Homo sapiens: one gene and its partner. The protein of the gene in region 2 interacts with the protein of the main gene of each other region in a pairwise test. Each region holds a gene or a part of one and is shown on either strand. Other genes may lie near its edges.

Region 1 (7,036 bases), on a different chromosome or scaffold from region 2:
AAAGGAATTGCCACATCTGAAACATCCTCTATGGTGATAAGGTGAATAAAACCTCCCTTTCAGGAAGGAGGATGACTTACTCATGCACGTGAGGACCCTGTGGTGAACCACAATTTTCTGAGCCTGCTCCCCCACTGTCCCAGAAGACCCAGCTGTCTCTCATCTATACCTCCCCACACACGTACCACACTCACATCCTTCTCCTGGGCACCACTAGTGCCCCAAAAAAGGCAATGTTAGCAAAAGCCAAAGGCAAACTCATGTTAATCAACCAAACCTCCTAAAAAGCAAAGCTGCAGGCTTTGGTAGTCCTGATTGACCAAGCAGGAGGCAGCAAAAAGGACAGTGGTAGGTTTGCCAGATATATCACAGAAAGCAATTAAGTTTATGGCAGGGAAAAAACAGCTCCAAAGCCCCCTGAAACAAAAGACGCTTCCTGCCTGTAGTCTGTCCTGGGCCATTCTGTCATAATGGCAGGCTGAGCTATTCAACTGCAGCAGCCAACAGTAAAATACTGTTTGGAGAGAGAACCAGCCCAATCTCGACTGCAGAGACCTGCCTGTCAGGTTTTCATTTCTATGCTAGGGGATAAACTGTCCCAGCTGGTTTGAATAAGAAACGAGGAAAGTGAGCATCCACAAGAGAAAAAAAAAAAACACTTAATGCAGAAGAGGATTATAAACTCTTCAAGATTAGTTGAAGGAAAAGATTATGAAGGTAACAGGGTTTCCACTGGTATGGGGAAAATAACCCTAGGATGTCGTGGTTGACAAGCAAGAAAGCTGTCCTGAGAAGTTTTTGGTGTGGGAAGGTGAGCAATGATGGAAGGGGCGGGGCAGTCTGCAGCTTGGGTCTCCCTAGTCCCCATCCTGTGATCTCTCCTCTCTGGTGGGACCATGCATGTCCAGATTGCCCATTTTCCAGCTCAGATTCTAGCTGGAGTCCATATTAGGGTGAACATGCAAATTCTCATGAGTGCAAAGTTGTAGCAAACACTCTCGGTAGCAATGCAACAGACATTGATGCCAACCTGAGCCCACATAAGACGATGAGGGTGTCAGAAGGAGGCCAGTTGTAGAGTCAAGAGACAAGGATGGGATTTAAGGGAGATAAGATGCTAGACAGCCAGAGTGACTTCCCTTAAGCCTTAGATTGGCAGTCTCTCCCCCACTCCATAGCTAAATGGAGAGTGAGATATGACCATCCTGGAGACGCAAGTCTAGTCCTGGCTCCTAAATGTGCCATGCCCCTCAAACAGAAAGGGTCCCTAATTTATAGATTAGAAAACTGAGGCACAGAGAGGTTAAGTAACTTCTTATTGTAACTCATATTGGTACTATGAGCCACTTTATTCATGGCTGCAAGGGTGACCTCAAAAATGTCAGCAAAATTTGTCATTTTTCTTAGATAAACCACCTGTTCTACCTGGACACTGGACTTAATTGAGTTCAACAAACCCTAGATTAAAAAGGCTATCAACCCACCCTTTCCTTGGGATAGTCCTTAAACAAAAAGCTAAATAAACACAACATTTTTTTCTTTGAGGCTAAGTCTTTCTGATTACTTGAAACCAAAAAATAAGAGGCTACCTGAAAGGTTATAGAGGGCGTTATTAAATATCCTCATTCTTCAAATGCCTGCCAACCAAAGAGAAGAATAAGAACCCTCTACCTCCACCCCTACCCCCAGGAAATACTGTTGGGCTCAGGAGAATTACTGTGTGTTCCATGGGATAATAAGTGTCTTTATTACATCTAATTAGGGTCTCCTATAATGTGACAGAACCATTTTTGGTCACTTGGGTGTACCCAGGAAGGCCTAGCAACCATCTCTAAATAGCCAATCCCCCTGTCTCTAGAAAAACCACACAGTCCAAGAGAGAACTCTGCTAGGAGTCAGAAAGATGTAATTTCCATTAACTTGAGAAGCATTAGGGTTAACATGCAGACTCTGAAGCCTGACCTCCTGGAGTGGAATCCCAGGTCTACGACTTAGCTGTATGACTTCGAGGGAAGTTGCTTAACCGCTCTGTGCCTCAGTTTTCTCACCTATAAGTTAGGGATAAAAATAACACCTATTCATAAGATTTTGTAATGACCAAATGAGTTATGATATCTAAAGGACTCCATATAGTGCTGGGCATATAGTAAAAACAATATTAGTGCCTGCTTGTGTTGTTATTAACTTTATTATATTCTTAGGTACATTACTGAAGACCTCCACTTTCCAGACTCCTCTCAGATGGGCTGACAAGACCATCCCTATTCCAGGATTTTTAAATGACAAAATAATTTTAAAGTAATTTCAGATTGCTTTTATAACAAAGTTAAGAGCCTGCAATAAATTTAAAATGGCCATGCATTCTTTGCAGCTACTCCAAGTTAGAGGTGGAGTCTATTTCCAATGCCCTCCCCTTGAATCTGGGCTGGTCCTATAGCTTTCTTTGACCAACAGAATGTGGCAGAAGAGAGGCTACGTAATTTCTGAGTTTAGGCTTCAAGCTTATAGTTTTTGCTCTTGTCCTCTTGCCAGAAAGTTCTGTCATGTCAAGGAGGCTGAGCTAGGCTATTGGAGGGGCAGACCATGTGGCAGAAATGAGTCATCTCAGCTGAGATCCCCTAGATCACCTAGCTCCAAGGTACCAGCTGAGCACAGGGGCATGAGTGACCCCAGGTGAAACTAACAGAAGAACCACCCAGCTGAGCCCAAATGGCAATATTAGCAAAAGTGCCCAAATTGCTGACCCACAGAATCATGAGCAAATTAAACAGCTGTTGTTTTAAGCCACTATGTATGAGGTGGTTTGTTGTGCAATAGATAACTGATGCAGAGCCCTCACTGATACAAATGAGGATTTATTATCAATAGTATTTCAAACACACACACATAAAACCAGGCCACTTGCCAGCAGGTTTACCAACCATCACAAGGTGTTTCCAAGCTCTTATATCACCCACCTAGGGCCAGTGAGGCAGCACATTCACTTGGAAAAAGCTAAGACCAATTAGTGATCAAATTTGGGAAGATGGAGGCAAGCTTTCAGCACCAAGGTAGGGTGCCAAGTTAGATCCTTGTAGAGGGATATCGTGGGAATACAGGATTTTGTTTGTTCCTTTTAGTCTGCAATAGAATACAAAGCCAGAAATGCCTGAATTTGGCTTCCTTGGAAGCAGTGTTATTCCACAGGTCTTGGATATTGCACAACAGTGTGGGTAGACACCTTCATGGCATGAGTCACAAAATTCAAGATCAGCATCACTAAGGGAGAATCAGGGGAGCCAGTCAGAACCAATCATGTCATATCCATGGTCCAGATATGTGGCTCCAAGAATGCAGGAAGCCCAGAATGCCTTCATTTTATTCTGCTGGTAAAAGCAAGTGAAGGACTTCAGGATATGCCACCCCAAAACACACTGTATTAGTATGATTATTTTGAGCTGAAGGCATTTGAAAAACAGCAAGTGCAGAGAGAGGCTTGCTCTGAGCTCCCCTTATCTGCCTAAAGACAGACAGATGCTCCAAAAGAAACTAGGTTGTCATCAATTCCCTCCACAGAAGTTTCATCAACCAGAGGAGATTAAATCTTATCACCGGTAAGGAAACTAGAACACACACCCCACCCAGACAAACTCTGTCACAAACTACCGTATCTCCGATCTATTCTTCTGAGGGCCCATTCATCTTCCCAAAAAATCATTTACTCTTCTCTTATTTGCCTACGTCCTTCCTCCTCTCTCTCTTACGAAGAGAATATATGAGCTCCTAAATCTGACTATGTCTTTGGATATTCACTTTCTTTCCTATGATGCACTCATGCATATAATAAATTTGCATACCTTTTCTCCTGTTAATCTGCCTGTTGTCAGTTTATTTCATAGACCCAATTGTTGACCCCCCAGGTTAGAGCAAAAGTCTTCCCTTCCCAAAACAAGAGAATGATTACATTCTAAGCTTTGATTTTACTGTGACCTAAGCAAAAGGTTACTTCACTCCAGGACACAGGGGGAAAAAATAGCAAGTTCCATAAATCAGTGTTCCCTCACCTGTAACCTGAGGGAAGAACTGATACCCAACTTTATAGGGAAATTACTCTGAAATATATGATGAGAGGATCTGGAGGCTTAAGTCCCCATTTGTTATAAACAAAGCTAACACATTGAAATGAAAACAATCTTACTCAATTATTTGATAAGCTGGACAGCCATGATGCTAAAGGTTCTTACACAAGCCCGGTAGCCTTTGTCTGTGCATTACTTGTTTGTTCTTCTGTTTGTTGATTTCATACCTTGTACTATCTATTTTGTGGGTATGTCAGCATGGAGGAAGAAGTTTGTTGAGGGTGCAGAGGCGGGAATGGCAAGAATTATATAAAAGTAAGACCCTCTCCTTCCAAGAGCTTACAGGTCTGATCATCTTGAAAAACAAAATTCCCTGCTTAAAGCATCTCAGAGTAACTCCACTGAGCTCAACCAAAATTGCTGCATCTATTGAAACTCCTCAGGTTATGAATCAAGAGAGTTCAGAAAACTCCTGACTGTGTGGAATTACAGAGCTGATGAGATGTTCACAGATGAAGATGCCATAAAATAAAGTAACTTACAGCTAGTTTTGGCACAGAGCTGAATCTGGGCTCCAGGCAAGCAGGACTCCTGCCCCACCCCCCACAGAGACCCCTCTCAAGATGCAAGGTATTTAAAATGTGAGGGGATGCAGGCACCCCACAATTCCAACCCAGTTGCCCAGAAAACAGAAATTAGCTATCACATATGGTGAGCAGAAACTCCGCACTTATCACGTAGGAGCAAGTCAAGGATATAACTTCTTGTGGAGTAGACTTAAGGCTCTCTAACCATACACATTTAATAGAGTACTCAGCAGCCATTAAAACAGGCAAAAGCGCAAGAAACGACTTGGTTACGTTTAAAGTTCAAAACTTAAGTACATAGAGACTATGTGAAAAAAGTAAATACAAAGGGGAAAACAACAGCAAAATACACTAAAGTGTTCATGACTACAACTGGCACCTTTTAAAATTGGGTGATTTTTACTCTTAATTCTTTCTGCTGTTCTCCATAGGCCAAATATGCTTTAACGATCTTGAACTACTTAAATGCTCTTGAATTTTTTGGCTACCTTCATGCAGAAGAGATAGCTAGAGTGTCAACAGTAGGTGGTGGTCAGGACAAAAGGGAATGCAAGCAGGGGTGAGTGTGGACATCGAGTAAAGCACAGCCGTAAATACTCCACATGGGTTGGCCCCATTCAGTGCTGTTCAATGGGTTACATTCCAGTTCTGCCACCTTTTAGCTTGTCTAACTTTGGGCAACTTACCTAATCTCTTAGGTAAGCCTCAGTTTCCTCAACTATAAAAGGTGGATATTAATAGACCCTTCCTTACAGGAATGCTGTGCAGATTGAGTGAGAGAATGCATGCAAAATGCTTAGGGTGTTGCCTGGTAGACAGTAAGAACAAACAAATGTTACCTGTAGTGATGGTGGTGATAGAGATGGTTAATAATAGAGTTACATTTTATCACCACGGTGATCATGATGATGATGATCCTGACACTGTTTAACACTGTTACTAACAATGAATTACGTTTCCTTGCTTTGGAAAATGACCCAATGTTCCCATATGTCTTATGACTAGACCGTCATTCCTCTGATCCTCAAGTCCTCTGGGTTTCTTACTAGCAGATTCTTAAGTTGAAGTTACAGCTCACATTCCACCCAATATGCCCCGGGGAAAAGAGTGATGATAATATATAAATTCCTGCTTGTTGTCTTGGGCCTTATTAGGGTCATAAAATGTTATCCATTTAGAAAGGCATCTTAGTAGATATTTTACAGAATTCTGCTTTGTACTTGAAACATATAATTATCATTAACAAACACAGGTGCTAATAATTCAATCTGCTCTTTAGGCAAGAAACAGGAACATAAACATGGCCCTGGCCAGATCAGCTCATAATCTTAAGCAATTTCCTTTGCATGTTTCCTCCCTCTCTTCCAGCCATCAGATGCAAAGTGGGAGGCCTGTTTGACAGGCAGAAGGCCTCTGGGCTGGTAGTTGATAGCCTTGATAGCCAAGAAGAAGACCATGAGACAACCAGGCCCAGTCCCCGAAGCCTCACACAGGCATTCCTTGGCATTTGCCACCTGCCCTCAGAAAAACCAAACCTCTGATTTGATGTCTTCACCTAAAAAAATGGAATCAGGCCTGACACACTAACCTGGTCAGCCTGCGCAGTAAGCACCACACCTAAAACCAAAAGACAAAATGCATCAAGTAAAAAGCAATCATCAATTAAACACATAACTTTCAATGTGCCCACGTCCATCTATGCTGTCTCTCTTCTTTGTTGGGGTAACACTCTCGTCCTGTTTTAGATCAGTAAATATTTTCTAAGGCTTAACATGCAAAGATTCTGTAACTACAAATGCTCAATAATTAGTGCACACATGTTCTAAGTGTATTCGGCAATGTATTTCACTTAATGCAGACACTTTTGAACATTGCTCCACACCCCCGACGCACCCCCATCTGTCACTGAGAAGATTACTCTGAGGAAGTTCTCTTTCAATTGACCAAATTAGCTTCTGTGGTAAGCAGAGAAGTCTTTGATCTACCAACCATTCGCTGAGCATGGGGACTCCCCTTTTTGGTTCACCAGAATTGTAACTTAAGCACAAGCCAGGCTTCCAAACCGCAGGATCACAGTGAGCAGTGAGGGCTTAGGATGGGAAACCTGGCAAACTGCCAAGGAGATGGGAAAAACACAGGGTCCCGGGACTTTCAGGAGTCCATTCCCAACAACTTAACCAGAGCTCCCAAATGAAAAGCCGAGGGCTGTTGTAACAGCTGCCATTCTTACCTTGAGAAGGAGAATGTGGTTGTCAGGCTCCTCTCTGGAACAGTGAAAAGGTTTGCACTCAGAGTAATCAGCCTACCAGAGATAAAAAAAGATAAGGAAAGAGCCACTGCTGACGATGAGTAACGTTCTTGAACAACTGGAATGTTTTCTAACAAAAGGCA
Region 2 (6,854 bases):
TCCTTTTATATATATACATATACATATATATATGTATATGTATATATATTTTTTTATTATACTTTAAGTTCTAGGGTACATGTGCACAATGTGCATGTTTGTTACATGTGTATACATGTGCCATGTCGGTGTGCTGCACCTATTAACTCGTCATTTACATTAGGTATATGTCCTAATGCTATCCCTCCCCACTCCCGCCACCTGACAACAGGCCCCGGTGTGTGATGTTCCCCTTCCTGTGTCCAAGTGTTTTCATTGTTCAATTCCCAACAAACGGTGCTGGGAAACCTGGCTAGCCATATGTAGAAAGCTGAAACTGGATCCCTTCCTTACACCTTATACAAAAATTAATTCAAGATGGATTAAAAACTTAAATGTTAGACCTAAAACCATAAAAACCCTAGAAGAAAACCTAGGCAATACCATTCAGGACATAGGCATGGGCAAGGACTTCATGTCTAAAACACCAAAAGCAATGGCAACAAAAGCCAAAATTGACAAATGGGATCTAATTAAACTAAAGAGCTTCTGCAGAGCAAAAGAAACTACCATCAGAGTGAACAGGCAACTTACAGAATCCAAGAAGTCCTTTATCTGATAAAAATTACCCCCGACTCAGCTTCCACTGTTTTAACAAAGTATCTTGACCCTTAACAAATCTCAGAAATAGCTCTTTGCTCCCTGAAAAACCTATTTCCTTTATATTTTAAACAGTACCAACTTGGTTTAAAGTTTTCAGCTTGTCCTCTGATGCATTTGTTCACCTCATTGTACTAAAACACAAAGAAACTGTCTCGTATAAAAATCAGAAGGAAGTTTAGAAATCAGAAAGAAGTTTAGAAAAGTTTAGAAATCAGAAGGAAGTTTAGAAAAAAATTATGGAACACATGAAAAAAAAAACAAGAATAAACTAAAGGGCACTGCTGAATAGACAGACAACAGCAACAGTAAGGGGGCTCTGGTCCCCCTTACTAACTCTGCCAAGATGACAGTTGTTTGAATTCTCCAACCCTTCTTCTGCTCCTCTGTCAAAGGAGGATTTCGCATAGGGTTCGCAGGCTAGCGATCTAATAGGTAAAGCACCTGGCACGCAGCTGGAAGGCTATCTGGGGTCTGTCTGCTTCTGCTAGCATCAATACTCTGAGCTCAACTCCACCGGGGCTCCTAGGATAACCGGGACAGAAAGGACGGTGAGAAAAGAAAAATGAGTAACATCACACAAGTTGAATCATATGAGGTTGACGATATTCACATCTTCCATCCAAAAAACCGACAATTTCTTATGATTCAACCCAACATATCGCAGCGGTTGTTCGTGTCGCATGAGTCTCGGGGGGCACTCAAGAACTACGATCGTGCACTTGCTTTCTTAACAAAGAACAGCTGCCGCCCTCAGGAACTCCAGCAAACCTTTCTCCAGAAAGGTCAGTCGCCTTAGCGGGCTCCAGGAGCAACCTGTTGCAGAATGAAGCCTGGGGCGCCGGCTTCCCCGCCCTTTACCTCCAAACCACCTCCAGGCCAAGCCCCCTCCAGGCCTAGCTCCCTTCTGGGCGGAAGCCTCTCGCGAGCTGCGGGACACAAAAGAATGAGCGGCGGGGCGGGCGCGGGAAGCCAAGAGACTCCAGGAATTCGCAGCCGCGCAGGGGAGGGGGTTGCCGGAGTAACTTGGCTGCTCTGAGCGCGTCGGCGCCAGTTCCCCGCCGCGGCCCCTGTTGGGCACCGATCGGGGGCGATCTTGCCAGAGAGAAGGGGTTCTGGAGCTAGTTCCTCCCTCCGATCCGACTCCCTGCCCCTCCAGACACGGGCTTTCGGGGAAACTGATCCCGAGCCTCTGACTTTCTACAGCCGTGAAGCTCCTGGTCTGTCCACGCTCCTCTTTGTTGTCCGGTCGGCGTGTTCTGGCAGGGTGCGCCTTGAGCACCCCAGTTCTCCATCTAGCGATAGCCGCGGGTCCCCGCGCATGCAAGCAGAAGGGCCGTGGAGCGAGAGGCTGGGAAGGTGCTTCAAGCCAGGGGTGCATGCTTTCTCCCACGGACGCGGGGAGATGGCCTCGCTTTGTACCCCCATATCCCTACTCCCGCTGTGGTCGGCTGCACAGTGTTGGCCCATTTCCGCACTCAGCCAGGGAAGCTCAGCGCCTCACGTCCCCGGGGCCATCCCTAGAGTTTCCTTTACCGCAGACTCGTTCCCAAGACCCTGGCGAGTCTCACCTCGGTCACCGTTCTCCCCGAGAGCGAGTCCGAAGTCTCTGGGGCCCCGGTCCAGTTCGCACACTCACCTCCGACTCCCGCTCCGGAACCACGGCCGCCGGCTACCCCCACCCCCGCCCCCATCCCCAGTGGATGGAAAGAAGACCCAAGCGGGGCGTCGCGGGCCACCACTCAGACTAAAAAGTTTGGGTTGGACGGGCACCGGCACCACCACGCTCTCCCCGCAGTTCCTCTGGCCCCCAGCCGCTGTCCGGGCCCGCACCACCTGCTGAGGGGCCAGGGAGGCGGCGCAGATGGCTAGGGTAAGGGGGGCGCAGAGCGAACCCGTCCACTCCTCACTGTACACCCCCAGTACAGTGGAAGGAGTGCGCTCAGCCCCGCGCCTGGTCAGCAGATGCCTCTCTCGCTCCGGGATGAGGACCCAGCTACTCACCGTGCACCCGGCTCCCGCTCCTGCTCCCGCCCTAGTCACCGCTGCCGCCGCCCTTCCCTTAGCTCGCCAGACCCTGGCTCGTGAATTATTTATGACCCGGCTTCTGGGACCACCGCGACGGCTTTCGGAGAGCCCGCCTCCCACTGCCGGCCGCGGAGGGGCTCAGGCGGCGCTGCGGCCGGACCCTCGGACGTGGCGGGAGGCAGGAGAAAGGCCCGGGTGCCCGGGGGGACCCGTTGCGGCTTCCTCTGTCCCGGACGGGGACCTAGGTATGGGGCCGCCGTAATGGAAAGGATTCCTTAAACATACTCACCGCGGCGGGAGAGCTGAGAGCATGGCCAGGTGCCGCGTGGGGATCTGCCTCAGTCACTTAAAGATCGCGAAACCCGAGCCCTGGACGCACTCTGATTGGACCGGCTGAGCTGCTTCGCCACGTAGCCCTGGGGCGCCCACCAGCACCTGGACAGCATCCATTTCCTGTAGAGGTGCCTGCTCAACCCCCTGCACTCCCTTCTTGCAACGCTTGCGCCTCTTTTCCCCCCGCAGAGTCCCTTACTTAGAATGCAGCTACCCTCCTAAAAACTCTCCTGTCTCATCCCGGCCGCATTAGACCCTTCTGTTGCCTAATCCCAATGCAATTTAAAACAAAACAAAACAAAACAAAACAAAACAAAAAACAAAAAAACAATCATTTGGATCCTTAGTGTGCAGCAGTACCAATGCTAGTGGCTGAAGCGGTTGAAAAACAGCATAAAGCCATATTCGCTCCCATGTGTACACACAGGCATCTGCTATAACGTGAAGCCACTGCAACTTCTTTTCTCACTGCCTATTGGTCTTCCCGCTCTGTGAGTTACAACTCAACCTCGGAGTCTTCACCTTGCTACTTAGCTGAGTGGTGGAAACCTGTCAGAAGTAATCACTCGGTGTCTAAGTGTCCTCACCAATTTGCACTTCACTCTTATTCACCACTTCTTATCTTGAATTGAGAATACTGTACTCTCCGGCAGGCAAAAAAAAGACTTAGGGAAGAAATGCACCTTCAGGATGGTGTCTAGCATACAGCAGGTGTTTAATACATGTTTGTGATATGGATAGACAGATGAAAGGATGGATGCACAAGCTACAAATGAATGATAGACAGGAACATTAAGTCAGTACCTTTTTCTTTTTACCCCAGAATCTAACATAAAACAGGTACTGGAAAATAAGCATTTTTTGTTTTTAATAGTTAGATTGATCTTGAGTGTGTATATTTCTAGACAAGAAATGTTAGTTCAGAAAACTTCCAAAAAGTACAGTAGGACATGGCAAGGTTAGATGGTTTGGCTCTGTGTCCCCATCCAAATCTCATATTGAATTATAATTCACTGGGAGAGGGACCTAGTGGGAGGTGATTGGATTATGAGGGCGGATTTCTCCCTTGCTGTTCTCATGATAGTGAGTGAGTTCTCAGGATATCTGATGATTTAAAAGTGTGTGGCACTTCCCCTTTGCTCGCTCTGTCTCTCCTTCTGCCATGTGAAGATGTGCTTGCTTTCCCTTCTTCCACCATAATTGTAAGTTTCCTGAAGCCTCTCTGGCCATGCCTACGGTACAGCCTCTGAAACCCAGTCTCAGGTAGTTCTTTATAGCAATGTGAGATCAAACTAATATGGGTGGAAAACAAATCTCTTCTAATCAGGGCAGATTTCCCCTCTGCAGCCCCTGCAGGTCAGAAGTTTCTGGTTGAACATCTGCTGGGGTCCCATAAACCTTCTCCTAGATAGCACTTTTAGGCTGGAGCTAGCAAAAGAGGTGATTTCTCAAAGGAGTGGGTCCTGATCTCCGTCAAAGTTTGGTCCCGCCTCTTTTAATCGCTGTGACTTTGGCTGCTTAATATTTCTCTGAGCCTCAGTTTCCTGGTCTGCAAAATGAAGACAATTATAACTCACAGGGCTCATTTTCATTCCTAATAATATCAACAACAATAGTATCAGTAGAAAGGGGTGAAGCAAGATGGTCAAATAGAAGGTTTGACCACCCACCCCCCACCCCGGCTAGGAACACAATTTAACTGCTATCTACACACACAAAAAGCACCTTTATAAGAACCAAAAATCAGGTGAGTAACCACAATACCTGGTTTTAATTTCATATTACTGAAAGAGGCACTGAAGAAGCCAGGAAAGACAGTTTTGATTTGCCAATGCCGCCAGTCCTCCATCCCCCAGCAGCAGCAGCCTTGTGGCTTGGGAAAGGGAGAGTGCAGTGATTGGGAGACTTTGAATTGAACTCAGTACTGCTCTGTCATAGCAGAAAGCAAAACTAGGCTGAACTCAGCCAATTTCCCTCAGAGGAAATAGCCCATACCAGTGGTGAAAACTTGAGTTTCAGTAAAGTGCTCTGGGGCCCCAAATAACCTTAAAGGCAGCCTAGGCCACAAGGACAGCAACTCCTAAGCAAGCCCAAATGCTGAGCTCAGAGCCAGTAGACTTGGAGGGCATGCGACTTACTGAGACACCAGACAGGGGAGCTAAGGGAGTGCTTGTGACACCCCTACCCCAACCCCAGGTAGTGCTGTTAGTGGCTCTTCATCACTGCATGCCCTTTTCTAGCACTCATGCCTCTTTTACCCCAGCAGAGCTCTCTACTTGGAATGCAGCTACCCTCCTAAAAATGCTCCTCTCTCAAAAACTCTCAGCCACATTAGACCCTTCTGTTGCCTAATCCCAATGCAGTTAAAAAAACAAAACAAAAATAATCATTTGGATCCTTAGTGTCTGCATCAGTCCCAATGCTAGTGGCTGGAGTGATTAAAAACAGCACGAAGAGACCCATTCCTTCTGCTTGAAGAGAAGAGGGGGAAGAGTAAAGAGGACTTTGTTATCTTGAATATCAGTTTAGCCACAGTAGGACAGGGCATCAGTCTGAGTCATCAGACCCCCATCCCAGGTCCTAACTTGTGGATAACATTTCTAGACACATCCTGGGCCAGAAGGGAAACTGCTGCCTTGAAGGGAAAGAAACAGTCTGGGCAGGACCCATCACCTGTTGGCTAAAGAGCCCTTGGGTTCTCAATAGCCAGAAGCAATACTCAGGTAGTACACTGTGGTTCTTGGGTGTGACTCTGAGATCTGCTGGTTTCAGGTGAGACCCAGTATATTCCCAACTGTGGTGGCTAATGTGAGAGACTCCTTCTGCTTGACAAAAGCAGAAGGAAAAGTAAAGAGGATGTTTTCCTTCCCCTTAGGTACCAGCTCAGCCACAGGGAGGTAGAGTACTAAGCAGGCTCTTGGGGTGGTCTTCAATGCCCAGACACCAATGAATATCCAAAAGCTTCCAGACCACCCAGGAAAACATGACCTCACCAAACAAACTAAATAAGTCCCCAGGGAACAACCCTGGAGAAATAGAGATATGTGATGTTTCAGACAGAGAATTCAAAATCAATATCTTGAAGAAACTCAGAGAAAATTAAGATAACACAGAAAAAGAATTCAGAATTCTATCAGATAAATTTAATAGAGATATTGAAATAATTTTAAAGAATCAAGCAGAAATTCTCAAGTTTAAAAATGCAACTGACATACTGAAGAATGCATCAGAGTCTTTCAATAGCAGAATTGATTAAGGAGAAGAAATAGTGCACTTTTAAAGACAGGCTATTAGAAAATACAGTCAGAGAAGACAAAGAAAAAAGAATAAAAAATAATGAAGCATGCCTACAAGATCTAGAAAATTACCTAAAAAAGCAAATCTAAGAGTTACTGGCCTTAAAGACAAGGTCGAGAAAGAGATGGGGTAGAAAGATTATTCAAAGGGATAATATCAGAGAACCACTCAAACCTATAGAAAAGTATCAATATCCAAATACAAGAATTGTATAGAACACCTAGCAGATAAACCCAAAGATGACTACTCCAAGGCATGCAATAATCAAATTCCCAGAGGTCTAGGATAAAGGATCCTAAAAGCAGCAAAAGAAAAGAAAGAATTAACAAACAATGGAGCTGCAATACATCTGGCAGCAGACTATTCAGTGGAAACCTGACAGCCCAGGAGAGAGTGGCGTGACATACTTAAGCTGCTGGAGGGAAAAAACTTTTACCCTAGAATAATATATACAGCAAAAATATTCTTCAAACATGAAGGAGAAATAAAGACTTTCTCAGACAAACAAAAGCAGAGGGATTTCATCAACACCAGACCTGTCCTACAAGAAATGCTAC

Evidence for each region. The genes of interacting proteins can lie anywhere in the genome.
Region 1: the proteins of PROM1 (region 2) and LYPD6B interact in a protein complementation assay, tested with the Homo sapiens proteins (one study listed by IntAct).

Annotation. Positions count from the first base shown.
Region 1 is NC_000002.12:149,160,675-149,167,710, reverse strand, and holds part of LYPD6B (ly6/PLAUR domain-containing protein 6B), read right to left. Parts: intron 6,948-7,036; coding exon 6,876-6,947; intron 6,263-6,875; coding exon of another isoform or gene 6,234-6,262; intron 1-6,233. UniProt on the Homo sapiens protein: Likely acts as a modulator of nicotinic acetylcholine receptors (nAChRs) activity. In vitro acts on nAChRs in a subtype- and stoichiometry-dependent manner.
Region 2 is NC_000004.12:16,081,022-16,087,875, forward strand, and holds the start of PROM1 (prominin-1 isoform 1 precursor), read right to left. Parts: upstream 3,003-6,854; 5' UTR 2,957-3,002; intron 2,709-2,956; exon of another isoform or gene 1,084-2,708; intron 1-1,083. UniProt on the Homo sapiens protein: May play a role in cell differentiation, proliferation and apoptosis. Binds cholesterol in cholesterol-containing plasma membrane microdomains and may play a role in the organization of the apical plasma membrane in epithelial cells.